2 separate regions of the Homo sapiens genome follow, and region 2 is linked to region 1. The links come from fine-mapping of genetic effects on gene expression. A gene starts in region 1. The other region holds a variant in brackets. All regions are shown on one strand. Distances are from middle to middle. Region 1 holds the start of NUDCD1 (NudC domain containing 1). Region 2 overlaps NUDCD1 (NudC domain containing 1).

Region 1 (8,808 bases):
CTTCCAATTTTTGGAGTTTTCCATTTTCAACCCTATATAATCTTCTACCTCATTTTTCTGCCATCTATCTTGTCCCCTTCAAGTCCAAGCTCCACACCAACAGAGTAAGATTCCTAAAGTGTAAATGTGATCTAGTCATTTCCTTTCTTAAAACTTTAAATGACTCCCATCATCCAAAAATAAAGTCAGCAACAGATGCACCTCTTTTTCTTATTGTGTGAGATCTTACATGATCACCTGAATGCCCGGGTTGAGTTGAAAGATTCCCCCTCTTCCTTATACATATTTGCCTCTTCCTTATACATATTTGTCTTACTCACTTTATAACCCTGCCTCTGGGAGCCTTTCTTGATTCCTCAGCCCCTTCTTTGTACTTCTAAACCTGTTGATTCTGCAAATATTTACGTGGCCAATTATGAACCAAACAAAGCATTAGATGCTGGGTATACAATGTTGTTTTTGGTGTTAAAGAACTTAGATTATACTGGAGGATACAAACTAGCCAAGTAGATTGTTAGAACACAATGTTGATTAAATGCTATGATGGAACAAGGTATTTGGGACTTAAAAACATTCCTTGAAGAGACAATATATAAATTAGACCTGATAGTTGAGCTAGAATTAGCTAAAAAGGAAGAGAAGGAAGAATGTTTTAGAGAGTGGAAACAGCACTTGCTGCTCCAAGGTTGAGAGCTTGGTAAATGAAGCTGGTTCCACAACATTGTCTCCCTGTTAAAACCCAGGTAACATTATGTCTCCAGTTGTAATTCAGGTATGTACTTTTTCTTCTCCATCAAATTACTCTTTAAGAGCCATATCTTGCTCATCTTTCTACATCACCACTTCCCTCCAAGTCCTGCAATACTTAACAAACCTAAATTATTTTTTCCAGATGTTCGGAATAGAAACTTTTATAATCTCAATTGTAATTCTTTCCAGTGACATGTTTCATTTCTTGTTTAGATTCTTACAAGCTAACTATTAAAGGCGGTGAAATGTAATTTATTAACACAATCTATTACTTACCGTTCTCTTTCTCCAGTTTCTATCAACTTTTGGTTAATCGCTGCTCTCATCTGCGCATCTTTGTTCATCTTGCTAACCTGGACATCAACATGTACTTTCAGATATAGAACATTTACAAAGCATTTTCTGCTAAATCCTCTAGGCAGGCATCCTAACATGTTTACCATTCTATTAACTGAAGGGGTGATACATTTCAAGTGTGTTAATAATATCATTACTCTTTATTAAACACTTATGTGCTTGGCACTGGGCTAATGCAGTGTGGGTTTGCTTTTTTTTAAACATCACATTTAATTCCCAGAACGTATTGTTACATATTTATATTAATAAAATAATCTGTATTTTACTGATGAGGAAACTGAGGCACAGAGATAGAAAGTGGAAAGGCAAAATTTGAACTCAAGTACTTTGACCCTAGGAGCTCCAAAACTGAACATAACTGCCGATCACTTCTGCAGAGACTGCATCCAAAAATTGGGAGAAGTCATACATACTAAACATCAAAAAAAGATTAAATACTATTAGTAAAAAAATAAAATTACCAGGCCGGGCACAGTGGGTCACACCTGTAATCCCAGCACTTTGGGAGGCCCAGGCAGGTGGATCACGAGGTCAGGAGTTCAAGACCAGCCTGACCAAGATGGTGAAACCCCGTCTCTACTAAAAATAGAAAAATAAGCTGGGCTTGGTGGCAGGTGTCTGTAATCCCAGCTACTCAGGAGGCTGAGGCAGGAGAATCGCTTGAACCCAGGAGACAGAGGTTGCAGTGAGCCGACATTGCGCTGCTGCACTCCAGCCTGGGTGACAGGGCAAGACTCTGTCTCAAAAAAAAAAAAAAAAATTAATTAATCAAAAAAAATAAAATTACTAGATAAGGCTCTAAGTGTTTTGCTTTACTCTTCACTAGGATGAACCCACAATTACAACTGCTAAACCTAAGTGTGTGGATGTGTGTGTTTACACACACACTGCTGGTGGGATAAGAAGAAAACAAATCTCAAACTAATTCCTAACTTACAAAGTCCTCAATTGTCAGTAAAAACAGACAACCCAAACCAAAATGATGTTGAAAGAAGAGGAAAGTTAGGTTTTGAAAGCGTTAAAGCCACTTAAAAGTTTAAATTAAATAAAACTTGGCGTAAACTAACGTTTTCCCACCTAATCTGTCACTAACTTGAGATTACTTTTGTTGTCTTCCATCTGGCCTATTGAAAATTCAGACTGGCAATGAGTTACCAGAGTTGATTTTTTTTTTCTTTTTTGAGAGGAACAGGGAAAAGGAGAAGTTGAGTGAGAACTAGGAAATGCTTGCTTTTGTAATTGGAGGCTAACATTTTCAAAATAACTACAAGGTCTAGTCAGTACCACTCCTGGAATATTGAACTTGATCTCGTCTTGGCTCCTAAAATACGGATAGTGACCTTGGACAAGTCACTTAATTCTTAAAGGCCTCAGTTTTCTCACTGGTAAAACAAGGGCGCTAGGGTATCCCTCCCAGTTCAGACATTCTTAGGGAAAATAGAACAGGGCGGAGACAGCGGGAGAGGCGGGAGAGGAGGAGCCAGAAAACAAAGCGAGGACTGGTTTCAGGCCAACTCCGGTAGCACGCCCTGTCGGAGAGCCCTACAGGCCCGCGAGCGCGGGTCGGGGACGCTAACGAAAGACAGTACATCGAAAGGAGCCTGGGCTGGGCCCGGGTCCCGGCCCTGAGGACCACGGGCATAGCTCACCACCATCACCGCGGGCGAGGGCCGTCCCTTCCCAGCGACGAAATGACCCTTGCGCTGAGGACCGTTACCTACCACACTCTTCGGCTGCCCGGACTTAGACCCTCAGTAGCTCGGGCACCTAAGCACACAGAAAGCTAGAACACGCATTTCCGGGGCGGGGTCTCGCCACCCTGCCTATAATGTGAGAATTTAACCAGCGCGGGCCGCCTCCTGGTTGCTAGGGCCTCTGGGTAACAGAGTTCAGACCTTGCCGTCGCGCGCGCGTTAAGTACCAGGAGAACTACATAGCCCAGCATGCAACAGTCTCAACTTTTTCACGGACACTACATTTCCCAGAAGGCAGTTCGCACCGCAGTGTTTTCTGGGATGGGAACCACGCCGCTTCCCAGTCTCTGTGCGAGGCGTGAAGCGCGGACCTTTCAACAAGGGCTTTATTAATTCTCACGCTGCGGCCCTGGAAAGCGATGGAGGTGGCGGCTAATTGCTCCCTACGGGTGAAGAGACCTCTGTTGGATCCCCGCTTCGAGGGTTACAAGCTCTCTCTTGAGCCGCTGCCTTGTTACCAGCTGGAGCTTGACGCAGGTGGGAAGCGGCGGCGCCCTTCGTACTCCGTTCCTTTCCCCTTTCGGCTGCCTCCGGCCTGACCCTTCCCGCAATTTCTTTCTTTCTGACTGGCAAGCGAAGCCACCGTGGCGGCTTGCGTGGACTCACGGAGGCCGCTGCTTCTGGGGAATGATGCCCATCCCAGAACCCGGTGGGAGCCGCCTTCGCGCGCTCTTCGGTAACGGGACCCTGGGCCCCCTCCGTCAGCAGCCCAGCCTCTGAGGTCTGAGGTCTGAGGGCTGGCGTGCGGGTAGTGCCTGGGGCTCTGGCTGCTGTGTGTCCACAGCCTGGCTTCTGTTTCGGGGGACGCTGAGAACATTCCTTCCTCCTGGAGCATCGCTTGTGAACGTGTGCGTTGAGAAACCACACCTCCTTGGAGGACCCCCAGTTCCTGTTTCCTCTGACCGAGAGCCGTTTCTTAGAAGAGAAACTACATTCCAGTCATAGCATTTTTAATTACTCAGTTCCTGGCACATTAAGAACTCTGGTAGAGAACATCTCTAGAAGATAGTGAGGAAAAGTGGATTTACTCCCACACTGCTACTCCTTGCTTTATCTGTAGCTGGTAGAATATCCTTACTCTTGTTTTTACAACTTAACGGCATTTTCGTTATGATAGAGCCCAGAGATCTGCATTTTAAAATTCACACCCCTGCTGATTCTGATGCATGTTTTCAGAGATCACACTTTGAGAAATAGTGATCTACAGTTAATTATAATAACAGACATTAAAGTATAAAATAAGTTTATGCTAATTGATTTATTAAATTCAGAAATATTTACCGAGTACCTGTTTTGTGTTACGTCCTGATAATATCAAAATGAACAAGACACCTTCCGTAACAAAAGAGGACTATTAGCTAGTTAGGAAGAAAATTGTAAACAGATAATTGTAAAACAATATGGGAAGGCAGTGATAGGGATATGTACAAAATACAATGGTAGTACTTGAATATCTTTCCTAAACTAGTCTGGGGATCTGGGAAGGCGTCTTGGAGGAGTTAATATCTAAGTTGAGCTTTGAAGGGTAGGTTAAGAGTTGACTAGGATGAGAGAGGATAAGCTTGATTTTTCTTTTTATTTTTTTCCTTTTCCTCTTTGCCACCGTGTTTCTTCCAGTCACCCCATGTCAGTAGATGGTATCACCATGTTTAGTTAGTGCATTAGAAAGTGAAGCCAAAATTCAGTGTCTCAAAACAAGAAGCAGTTATTATTGCTCACAAGTCTACGGGTCAGCTGAGTGGTTCTTCTAGTCCTAGTTGGGCTCATTGATGCATCCTTGTTCAGTAATGGATCTGCTGGGAAGCTCTGCTCATTTGGCTGGACTTCCTCATATGTTTGGAGGGTGGGGGTAGGGTCTCAGACTATAAGCTTGTTTAAGATTCTTTCACATGGTCTCCTCTTGACTTTTCTCCGTGTGGTCTCTTATCCTTTAGCCGACTAGACTAGCCCAGGTTGGTACCAAGAGACACTTGTGCCAGAGTCATTTGGGGTTTATTTCTTTTAGCCACTGTCTGCTTGGTAGCAAGTCCGGTCAGCTCCACATTTTGATATCTCTAGGCCTCCACCCTAATCCAAATCAGAGTTATCTCTTACCTGAACTCTAGTAGCCTCCTGACTAGCCTTCCTGCCTTCACTTTTGGGCTTCGTCATTGCATTCTCCATAAGACGTACTTATCGGCCTTTTAAATTCTATCTTGATTTGTTGTCTGTTTCCTCCACTAGACTATGAGTTCCTTGAAAACAGTGATGTTTTTCTTTTGTTCACTACCCTATATCTAGTGCTTGGCACATAGGATGTATTCAATAAAATGAGTATATGAAGAAGAGAAGAAATTGTTGAGGTCATTCCATTCATGGGAAAGCATGAGGAAAGGGAAATAATTAGTAGGTTGTATGCTGGACATCCTTGCACTCTTATATTGCTGGAGCAAAACGTCTGGGAAAGTGAGAGGAAATAAATCAGTGAGGGCCTTGTTTGCCTTTTGGATTTCTTGGATTTCCGGTCATTCAGTGTTTCCCTGACATTTTTGTATTGAGCCATTACAATATAAAATAAAACTCAGCTGCTGTAGTTCTGCCAACTTTTCTGTTTACTAGGTGGAGATGTTTCTTAAAAACTATCATTTACTCATCTATCTTTTCATAAACAAAAGGATATTTTAACACCAAAAAAGCAGGAAGCAAAATCTCACAATAAACAATCCATTGAATACTTTAACTTTAGAAAAAATTCACAAAGTTGTCCTTGTTCCGTACTCATTTCATCAGCGTTAATCTTAGATTCTGTGTTTGGGATGTACAGCTGCAGGATATCAGGTGCCATTTGAAGATTTTTTTTTTTTTTTTTTTTTTTGAGTCTGAGTCTTGCTCTATTGCGGAGGCTGGACTGTAGTAGTGTGATCTCGTCTCATTGCAACCTCTGCCTTCCGGGTTCAGGCGATTCTCCTGCCTCAGCCTCCCGAGTAGTTGGGATTACAGGCGCCCGCCACCATGCCCAGCTAATTTTTGTTTGTTTCTTTTTGTTTTTGTTTTGTTTTTTGAGACGGAGTCTCTGTCGTTGAGGCTGGAGTGCAGTGGCGCGATCTCAGCTCACTGCAACTTCCGCCTCCCGGGTTCAAGCAGTTCTCTGCCCCAGCCTCTGGAGTAGCTGGGATTACAAGTGCCCGCCACCAAGCCCAGCTAATTTTTGTATTAGAGACGGAGTTTTACTATCTTGGCCAAGCTGGTCTTGAACTCCTGACCTCGCGATCCACCTGCCTCGGCCTCCCAAAGTGCTGGGATTAACAGGCCTGAGCCACTGCTCCGACCGATTTTTTTTTTTCTTTGAAGTTCCGGGGTACATGTGCAGGATGTGCAGGTTTGGTACATAGGTAAACGTGTGCCATGGTGGTTTGCTGCACCCGTCAACCCATCACCTAGGTATTAAGCCCAGCATGCATTAGCAATTTTTCCTAATGCTCTCCCTCCCCCTACCCCATTCTCTGACAGACCACAGTGTGTGTTGTTCCCCTCCCTGTGTCCATGTGATCTCATTATTCAGCTCCCACTTACAAGTGAGAACATGTGGTGTTTTGTGTTCTGTTCCTTCGTTGGTTTGTTGAGGACAGTGGCTTCCAGCTCCTTCCATGTCCCTTTGAAGGATATGATTGTGTTCCTTTTTATGGCTGCATAGTATTCCATGGCGTATGTGTACCACATTTTAAGTACAAGGGACGTGAACAGATACGGGAGTTGAAAAGCTTACCTCAGACTCTGTGGAGGTTGAGTTTGGAAGATGAGATGACTGCACACAGCAGATAGGAGGCTTTTGCAATAGTTCACATGATGAGTTTTTCATTAGGAATTACTTGAGGATGATGAAAAAGATTATTTTGTTTAAAAACTATCATTTCTAGAGATAGTGAAGCATAATTGAGGCGCTTCTGGTAATTTGATTTCTTTTATTCTAACTGAAGGAGTTCACTTTAGTTCCACAAACCTTTGATGGGCACCTTGGCTACCTGAAACACTGCATTTAAGATGTAAAGATGATGTGGTCTCTGGTGTCAAGAACTTGATGCAATGAGGCTTATTCTCTTGTCTTAAATAATGTTATTAAGTTGTACCAAAATTTCCTTTGCTACATAAGCAGTAAATGTCACTTTGTCTTTTTCTATTCCAAAGAACGAAACAAAAAACTTATTTTTAATCAAATTGTAATTGTCTTTTGATCCGGCAATTTCCTTCCTAGGCATTTATAAATATCCTTTTCCTAGAATCTTCATTTAGTACAAGTCTTTTTATATGTTTTTATATGTTTCCCAGCTATATTTCACCTAGCTAATTCATACTTCATTCTTTCATGTTGGCTTACATGTTACTTCCTCAGGGATTCCTTTCTTGACTAGTCAGAATCTACACTATAGAATCTGTATTATGCGTTGCCATAGTAACCAGTACTTCATAGACTTTATCATACTTCGTAGCATCCAGTATGTTTTCTTTGCTAAGATTATTGATTTTGTATTGAAGGGTCCCATGTCCATCGTTTTCAATGCTTTATCTCCAGGGTTGGAGCATGCCTGGTAAGTAGGACATAAATTTGTCTCACAAATTAAACAGCTTTATGAAGACATAATTGACAATAAACTACAAATTTAAAATGTACAACTTAAGAAGTTGTGATATATGTATACACCCGTGAAATCATCACCACAATCAAGATACTAAACTTAGCTATCATTCCCAAAGTTTCCTTGTACCCTTCTGTAACCATCTCTCTGCTCCTTCTGCATTCTAGGTTGACAGTTTTTTCTTTCAATGCTTTAAAGTTATAGCCTCAGTCTTGCTTATATTGTTTCTGATGAGAAATCTCACATTATCCTATCTTTGTTGCTCTATACATAACATGCCTTTTTTCTTCTGTTTTAAGATTTTTCTCTTTTACATTGGTTTTGAGCAGTTTGATAATATTGTGGCCAGCTGTGGTTTTCTTTATGATTCTTATGTTTGGGGTTTGTTGGGCTATAAACTGCGGACATATAGTTTTTATCAAGATCAATGGCAATATTTTGGCTATTATTTCTTCCAACTTTTTCCCCTCCTTTTCTCCTTTGAAGACTCCAGTTACACATTTTTAGATCACAGAAGTTGGTCTCAGCTCATGAATGCCCGTTTCATTTTTTCTTCATACTTTTTTCTGTTTTATTGCCAATAGTTTCCATTTTCATGCCTTTAGTTCCGTTTACTTTTTTTTTTTGTAATATTAGTCTCTTGTTAATCCCATCTGGTGTATTTTTCATCTTGGACATTGTAATATTCACATCTAGAAGTTTGATTTAAATCTTTTGCATCTTTCTTGCTTCTACTTACTTATGTTGAACATACATGGAGTACATGTAGCAATAATTGTTTTTACATCTTGTTCTGTGAATTGTAGCTTCCATGTCAGTTTTATATTGGCTTCTATTGATTGGTAATTCTCTTCATTATGGATTTTGTTTTCTTTCCTCTTTGCATATGTGGTAATCTTTGATTGGATGCCAGACATTGTGAATTTTACCTTGTTAGGTGCAGGTTATTTTTGTATTTTTATAATGTTCTTGAGTTTTTTTTCCGGGATATAGTTGAGTTACTTGGAAACAGATTAATTCCATTGGTTCTTGCTTTTATGATTTGTTAGTCCGATCAGGAGCAGTGCTCAGTCTAGGGTTATTTCCCACTACCGAGGCAAGACTTTCCTGTGTACACTACCCAGTATCCCACAAATTAAGGGTTTTCTCCATTCTGCTTATTGGGAGCAGTTATGGTTCCTAGCCTTATGTGAGTGCCCAGGATTTCTCTTCAACCCTTTCAGATGGTTCTTTCTGTAGCCTGGGGTAATCTCCTCAAACACATGCCATTAGTACTCTTGAGTACTTGAGGCAGACTCTCAGATCTCTGGGCTTCTCTCTGCATCTCTCTTTTC
Region 2 (8,808 bases), 90 kb after region 1:
AGCCACTTCACAGCTTTCCCTGTTGAATTCAGGTCAGGTCTCCACTTCTTACTTTAACCCAATCTTTTACGGTTCTCCAGTCTGCTTGCAAACTCCTAGAATCAATTACATATTTATAAGTACTGTGCATATTTTATATTTTCTACATTTGATGTGATTTTTGTTGGTATTCTGTTTCGTATTTTCAACTCTGATAATAACATTTCTCATAAAGAAGACTATCCTTACAACATGTCTTCATTTAGAAAAAGTATTGCTGTAGATGAAATTCAGTGAGTTTCAATTTGATGATTTTGTATTAAAATGCATTTCTTTAGGCATCAATATTGCAGTAACAATTATTGATGTGTTACAATAACAAATGTTGACATTATTGACATATTGACATTGATACTTTAATTAAGCAGTACGTTTAAGTAAATAGTTTTAAACATCTGAGTGTGAATTCCAGCATTGTGATATTTCTCTTTAGCCTAGAACAAGTTACTCAAACTCTCCAAGCCTGTTCTTTCATCCCTTAAATGAAGATAATAATAGCCTTGCGAGTTGTTAAGATTAGTATTTATAACATGCCTGGTTATAAATGTTATGAGAGTGTGCTCATAAATTCTGGTAGTGTCATTGTTCTTGGTAATTATTACAAGTTAGCATTAGTAAACTTCATGTGTGTATTCTATGGCCTAAAAATAGTCTGCTTATAAAATTGGTGCTTTATATCAGCAGTCCCCAACCTTTTTGGCACCAGGGACCAGTTTTGTGGAAGACAGTTTTTCCATGGGCCTGTGGGGGCTTGGTGGATGGTTTCAGGATGAAACTGTTCCACCTCAGATCATCAGGTATTAGTTAGATTCTCATAAGGCAGACAGCCTAGATCCCTTGCATGTGCATTTCACAATAGTGTTCACCCTCCTGTGAGAATCTAATTCCACTGCTGATCTGACAGGAGGTGGAGCTCAGGCAGTAATGCTCCCTTGCCTGCTGCTCATCTCTTGCTGTGCGGCCCAGTTCCTAAAAGGCCACTGACTGGTACCAGTCTGCGGCTCAGTGACTGGGGACCCCTGCTTTATATCGTGTTTTAAACTATTTACTAACAATTAAGAGGTGGTATATCACGTGGTGATTAAGAACATAGACTCTGGGTCCAAATTTCAGCTCCATGACTTATGGCCAGGCTGACCATCGACAAGTTACCTAAATGCCTTGTGCATCACTTTCCTCAGCTTTGAAATGAACATAACAGTAGCACATTTATCTCAGGGATATTATGAGGAGTCAATCAGATTAAGTATATAAAAAGTATAAAACAGTTGCTGACACTTAATGCTGGCTGTCAGCTTCTGCCATTGTTATTGTTGCTATTATTAATTTGTTGTTGAGTAAATTTTTTTTTAAATCACTTTTTAGGTGAATCTTGGAAGCAACCAGTACCTTTTCTCTGTCATAGTGGATCCTAAAGAAATGCCCTGCTTCTGTTTGCGCCATGATGTTGATGCCCTACTCTGGCAACCACACTCCAGCAAACAAGATGATATGTGGGAGCACATCGCAACTTTCAATGCTTTAGGTATAAAGCAAACTCTTTGACATTTTCCATGAAATCAGAAATACAGTCATCATTCATTTAAAGTTCATTTCTTTTTTTTCTTTTTAATTTGAGCTGTCCTGATTACATTTAGATTGATTTGCGCTATGATTTGTTTGCTTGTACTAGTTGTGAGTGTTAGCACTGTTGGAACATTTAGACTAATCTGTTTTTATGCTTGTACAGAAGATCAACACAGAATAGAAATGAAAGTGGTTATCTAACCACTTGAATTATTCTAATAAGTCATTTGCTTTTTCTAATTCTGTAAGCCATATAATACTGGAGTCTGAGCAAGGAGCTTGATAATACCCTACATGGAACTGGTGTTCAAGTTTCTTCAGAGTAATCTTCAGAAACATCATAGAATTCCCCTAAGGTGTAATGCACATTAGGAGACATCTTTTGTCAAAATTAAGTACAAAAGAGAGCCATTATAATGAAAATACTTATGGAAAGCGGTGATAAGCAGAAATTAAATTTATTTGGTAGGATAAAAGGAAAAAAATCAGTTTTAAAATTAGGGCTTGACAATGTTTAAACTACTTAATTATAGACGTATGCAATCATTGATTTTCTGTCAAAATGCATTAGTATTGTGTGACAGAAATTTTTTATGTGAATTAGCCACAGTTGTTGCTTTATTGAAAGGTTATTTTAAACAGGCAGCAAGAAGTGAAGTTACGTATTTTGATGGCTATATGTGCACAACCCTAATTGTAGAAGAAATTTATTAATTATCCCTTATAGTTAATAATGTAGGCTGCTAAACTGGTTCAGACTCCAAATGGATTTTTATGACCTGAAGTACAAAGTTTGGTTAACTAATTTAACCATATAATTTTTAGCCTCCCTACTATAATGCTATTTTTTAATTATCTATACTTTGGTCAGAAGAAAGCTCTATCATATCATCTTTAGATGCTCAGATGTTCTATTTGTATCCCCAAATCCCCTATTATAGGGGAATTCTATGCTTAATTCTAAGTTAAATCAACATATATTAGATATGTACTCTTGAAATATTATATACATTATTCTGTCAAGGTTAGCCTGGATAGCTACTTTAAACTATTTAAATAGGTATCTAAATCTTCACTTTTCCTGCTTCAAACCTGCTTAATATTTTTAAAAACAGTATTGATCTGCATGTGCTCAGTAGTTCCTTTGCTTATTCATTGTTTGATGAGATCTCAATTTTAATTAATGTTATATTCTTATTTTACATGATCATAAATACCTAACATTTGCTAACCATGTCACTATCTAAAAATCATAATTTATATTTTGGAATATAAATGTTGTTTTAATCCAAAAAGATACTTTTTAAACATGTACATGAATTAAGATAAGGATTTTTTTCAGTTTAGAGACTTGAAATTATTTTTGAAGTTATAGTGATCAACATTCTACTTGTGGGGGCTAAAAGTACAAAAAAATCCAGTTACAGTGTTGGTATTGATGTATAAAAATATCACTAACATTTTAGGGATAATAAGAGAATGCATCACGAATACTAGTACATTCAGGGATACATTATGAACAGAAAACTAAAATAACTTTATGATGGTATCCTATACACATTTTCCAATTTATTTAAGAGGAAAAAAATGGTTCTGTGATGCCCTATCCGTAACTCACGAAGCTAAATATTAAATTGGCACTTAAAGATATTTTGTCATGTATTGAGTGTTTTAGATTTTAGAATTTTAGTGTTCGAATTATTCGTGGAAATTAAATGAAGCTATATTACGCTTTTTTTGAAGCGAGAAAGCCATATCTGTTTTGTTCCTTAGGAATTAAAGTCGTATTTTTGTACCAGATGGGAGAGACTGATTGTGGCTAATCGTTAATGATTCAGAATTATATACCTTATGGTATATATTTTACTTGGGCATTTTAATTTGTAATAAACATTGCAAAATATTAAATGTTAAATCATCATTTTTCCCCTTCTGTTTAATATATAGTTTTTCTTTTGTTTGTCTCATATTCTTGGCAGGCTATGTCCAAGCATCAAAGAGAGACAAAAAATTTTTTGCCTGTGCTCCAAATTACTCGTATGCAGCCCTTTGTGAGTGCCTTCGTCGAGTATTCATCTATCGTCAGCCTGCTCCCATGTCCACTGTACTTTACAACAGAAAGGAAGGCAGGCAAGTAGGACAGGTTGCTAAGCAGCAAGTAGCAAGCCTAGAAACCAATGATCCTATTTTAGGATTTCAGGCAACAAATGAGAGATTATTTGTTCTTACTACCAAAAACCTCTTTTTAATAAAAGTAAATACAGAGAATTAATTATTCTAACATATTGGCCTCTTTGTACTGGAAAAGTATTCAGTGGTACCTGGAGGTCTGGACAGTTATACTGTAACCTCTTAAGTTTTAATGTGCTAAATATATCTTGTATGATTTTTTATTTTTTAATAACATTGGAAATATATTCAAGAGATTATGATTCTGTAAAGCTGTGGAATGAAGCTGCAGATTTAGAGAACATTGGCTTCTGAAAAAAAAAAAGAGTGAAGATAGTACTAGCAAGTATACTTATTTTTTAAAACAGGCTAGAATCTCATGTTTTATATGAAAGATGTACAATTCAGTGTTTAAAAATAAAAATATT[TATTG/G]TGTACTCTGTTCGTTGATTAGTTGCTACAGGCTGTACCTATAAGATGTACAGGATAATAGTTAAATGTTGAGTATTGTACATATGTATTTAAGTGGATTGAATAACTGAGTCTACATGGAGGAGGAAATGCTAGAGAACAGCAGGTCTAATATTTTTTAAGTTTACTGAGAGACCTTTATTATTATTTTCAAATTAAGTATAGCTTTATGTAACTTTTAGCCAGTTGCTCTGCCACAGACATAGACAAAGAGAGATAAGATTTCACATTATCCATCACTGCATAACAAACCACACCAAAACTCAGTGGTTTAAAACAAGGACTTTTATTATTTTTCACGATTCAGTGAGTTGGCTGTCTCTGCTGTACAGGGCCTCTCAGCCTCCAGTAGACTAGACGAATCTTCTTTCCATAGTAGAGAAAACATCTTAAGAGAGCAAGCTCCAATATGCAAGAGCTTATCGATCCTGTACATCTATCATATTTACTAATGTTCCATTGGACAAAGCAAATCACATGGCCAAGTCTAGAGTCAGAATGAGGGGACTACACAAGCTGACAGCGGATGGTATGACTCATTGGGGGCCATTGATGGAACAATCTTACCACACAAGGACAAATTATAATTTATCCTTGTGGCTCTCTTTATTTTTCTAACAACTTCAACAAAATAATCCTGTTTATATGTTATAGTTTCTTGCCACAAATTTTGTTTTTTCAAACTTACCTTTCCAGGTTTGTTTTAGTATGTATGTACCTGGAAATTTTTATTACTTTTTATACCATTTCAAGATATGTATCTTATATAAACCTCAAGTTGGATTTTATATTTTAATAAGGAAGTTAAGACCTTCATTTAAGAGGCAGAAGATTAAGATAAGAAATATAAGATAGAAAAGCTTTGTTCCTAACATATCTTTTGCCTGTCTGGGCAAGTATTTGACTCAACTAAATTTTAATGAACGAATGAATGACAGAGAGGAGGAAAAAAGATGAGGATTGCATACATGTTCTAAACCCTTTGTCAGATTGCAGTTTCCTAGAGAGTATTGAGGTGCTAGGTAGAAAGTTAGGAAAGGTCCTGAGGACTGGTATTGACAATTGGAGTCCTAATAGTACTCTATTCGTATTAGGAAAGAGAGACTAGATACCAAACATCACGAGATCATAGAGATGGAAAACTGTATAGTAACCAAAAACCAAAACAGTGATATTTCCAGAACTTTTTAGTATTGTTGTAAAACTTCATGAAACAAAAGACCATTTAAATAGTGAATTATTAAAAATCTTTATGATGGGAAAGTAGATCTAAATTTTCTCTAAAATTTTCCCCAAAGATAATATCCTCTTAGGGAACATAAGAAAAATGTATAATAAAAATGTGGTGCTTAATTAACCATGACTATGTATATATTGCCAATTTTAGTAATCAATATTCTTTGTGCATGTGATTTTTTTGCATGATTAATGTTGAATTGAAAGCTCTCAGGATAATTAATCCTAAATATTGTCGCATGTTGACCTACGTTAAAAGATGAATAGGTCTAGAGCCGTGATTTCAAGCTATTTTCCTGAAATGCTTCAGGGATTCCATAAACATTTAAACAATGTTCTAAGGTACATATACTTAGAACATTGAGATATATACTACAAGTGCTAAGAATATAGTACCTTGTATTTTTGTTGATTTTTATCATGTTTTAAATAGGAATTTATAAAATATTTATGATAGTAATAAAGTAGTATTTTATGTGTTTTGCATATTAAGAGTCATTAACAATATTCACTCTTTTAACACATTTAAGCATCAACTATGTACCTTAGCATGATTTTTTCAGTATTAAGGATAATATATTACTAAGGATAAAGAGACAATCTACATTTTAATGATTTTCAGATAAAATTTCTTTTTAGGGAAAAAAAGAGGAGAGGGTGGCATAGAGTGGTTGCTTTCCTGCTAAGGAAGTCTGACCAGGGCTAGAACCTTGGGGACTACCCACAAGAGTCAGGTAGAGGAGTTGCCAATGGGAAGAGTTAGAAAAAAGAATCAGAGTGTCAAGAAATTAGGAATGGTTAACAATGTTAAAAAAAATACTCTTAAATAAAGTATACTCATCAAATTTCTACATAAAAGGGAAATGACTGTACAGAACAAGTTAAACCATCATTACACAGGAATTTCTAATATTTTGTGTTATTAACTATAGAAAAGAACAGATGGTAAGTTTATGTGTGGCAAGTCATATAAGAAGGCAAAACTGATACTTATCACTGATTATTACTGGAAGAATATTCTAATTACTTCTTAGTAGTAAGTGTGTCTTACTGAACAAGTAATAATAGTTGAGTGGTAAAAAACAAAAGCCCAATGATGGAAGTATAGAAGTAATAAAGCAAAGAGAAGTAAGGCCTTCTAGAATTGGTAAGAAAGAATAAATGCACAAAAAGAGCCAAGGTAAAAGGTACCCAACTAGATATCAAGATACATCATGAAGCAGTAAAAAGAGTAGCATCATTGCATTAGTAAACAAAATAGACACACATTTAATCGTCCTATACTTACAAGAAGAAAATATCTATATTCTCAAGGTTGAGAAGGCTTCTTAAGATCCAGAAGGCAAAAATATAAGCGAAAGGATTGATGAATTTGATCATTACAAAATGTAAAATTTCTTTATGACCTACTTTTGGTATAAGATAAAGCAACAGACTGAGGAAAGATATGTGACTTATGCGTAATGTATGAATGTTAAAATCTAGAACATAAGAACTATCATTTAATAAAAAAGCAAACAAGTTATACAAAAGGAAAGCAGACAAAAGATATGAACAGTTAATTCACAGAAAAGAAAATAAAGATGGTCAGTAAAGCTACAGTAATCAAGAAAATGTGGTATTGGCACCAATTTCAACAAATAGATCCATAGATCAGAATAAAGAGTCCAGATGGAGACTCAGACACATATGGTCAGTTGATTTTAGTCAGAGATATTTCAATGAAGAGGCAATTCAAAATGCAGAGATAATTTGATGGAGAAAAGATATATTTTTAACAAGTGGCGCAAAAACAATTGGGTATTCATTTTTGCCTTTGTAGTAGCCTAAATAGTGGCCACCTGAAGATATCAGGTTCCAATCCCTGGAACATGAAAATATAACCTTATGAAGATAAAGAGTCTTTGCAGAAGTGATTACAATGAGGATCTTTACATGGAAAAATTATCCTGGATTATCTGGGGTGGACCCTAAATCTAATTGCAGTGTCCCTTACAAGAGAGAGGCAGAGTGCAATTACAAACACAAAGAGGAGAAGCTTATGTGAAGATGGTGTTTAAAAGGCCACAAGCCGAGGAGTGCTAGAGCATGCTGGCAGCCACCAGAAGCTGGAAGAAGCAAGGAATAGATTCTCCCTCAGAGCCTCTGGAGGGGGAATGGCCCTGCTGACACCTTGATTTTGGTCTTCTGGCCTCAGATCTGTGACAGAATGCATTACCACCGAATTTGTGGTAAATTCATTACAGCGGCCATAGGAAACTAACACAGCCTTATATCAGAATTTACTTAAAATGGATCATGGACCTAAATGTAAAACCTGAAACTGTGCAACTTCTAGCAGATAACATAAAGGAAAAATTTTGTAAGGCTGGGTTAGGCAAAGATTTCTTGCATATGACACCAAACAAGAAAAGTGACAAATCATACTTCATCAAAATTAAGAAATTACGTTCTTAGGCAGTGTTGTGACAATGAAAAGCCACAGATTTGGAGAAAACATTTACAAATCACTATTTAATAAAGCACTAGTGTCCAGAATGTATAAAGAACCCTCAGAACTCAATAATAAAATAATCAAATATGTAAATTTTTTATTGGGCCAAAATTTTGAACAGATACATCATACAAGATGAATGGCAAGTAAGCATGTGAAAAGGCACTCAACGTTATTGGTCACTAGGAATGAGCAGATTGAAAGCACAATGCGGTATCACTACATAGCTATTGAAATCCTTTAATTGAAGACTGACCATTCCAGATGCTGGCAAAGGTATGAAACAAATGGAGCTCTCAAACACTGCTGTTTGGAATGTAAAATGGTAGAATCGCCTTTGAAAAGAGTTTAGTGGTTTTCTAAAATGTTAAACATGGATCTTCCATGTGACCCAGCTATTCCACTTACCCATTCTTTTACCTAAGAAAAATGAAAGTATATGTCTATTCAAAGATTTGAACAGAGCAACAGCATTCATAATAATCAAACCTCAGAACAAGTCAAATATCCATCTACAGATGAAGGGCTAAATACATTGTGCTATGTCCATGCAATGGATTATTACTCAGCAATAAAAAGTATCAATATACCCAACATAGATGAATTGCAAAGTAATTATGCTGAGTGAAAGAAGCCAGAGTACATACTGTATGCTTCAACTCAAAGTTCTAGAAAGTGCAAACACATAGAAAACAGATCAGTGATTACCTGAGCGGGAGGGATTTGAAAGATTATAAATGGGCAGAGAAACATTTTAGGTAAAGAGATATCTTCATTATCTTAATTGTGGTAGTTCGTGAGTGTATATATACACAAGTTAAATTTTATTAAAA

The links.
Region 2: its variant is fine-mapped to the expression of NUDCD1 in whole blood (INTERVAL, PIP above 0.99).

Annotation. Positions count from the first base shown.
Region 1 is chr8:109,328,423-109,337,230 of GRCh38, reverse strand. NUDCD1 (NudC domain containing 1) reads left to right here and starts at 3,144. Exons shown (of 10, transcript NM_032869.4): 1 at 3,144-3,338. The coding sequence starts at 3,221. ENY2 (ENY2 transcription and export complex 2 subunit) reads right to left here and starts at 2,884. Exons shown (of 5, transcript NM_020189.6): 1 at 2,757-2,884; 2 at 1,027-1,103. The coding sequence starts at 2,762. RefSeq lists enhancers at 2,603-2,852, 2,118-3,040, 3,223-3,272, 3,403-3,452.
Region 2 is chr8:109,238,078-109,246,885 of GRCh38, reverse strand. It overlaps NUDCD1 (NudC domain containing 1), which reads left to right. Exons shown (of 10, transcript NM_032869.4): 9 at 1,405-1,564; 10 at 3,585-5,967. The coding sequence ends at 3,877. Among named protein-coding and RNA genes, the nearest start is that of NUDCD1, 92 kb to the left of the region's middle. The variant TATTG/G (reference allele first, on the strand shown) is at 4,203.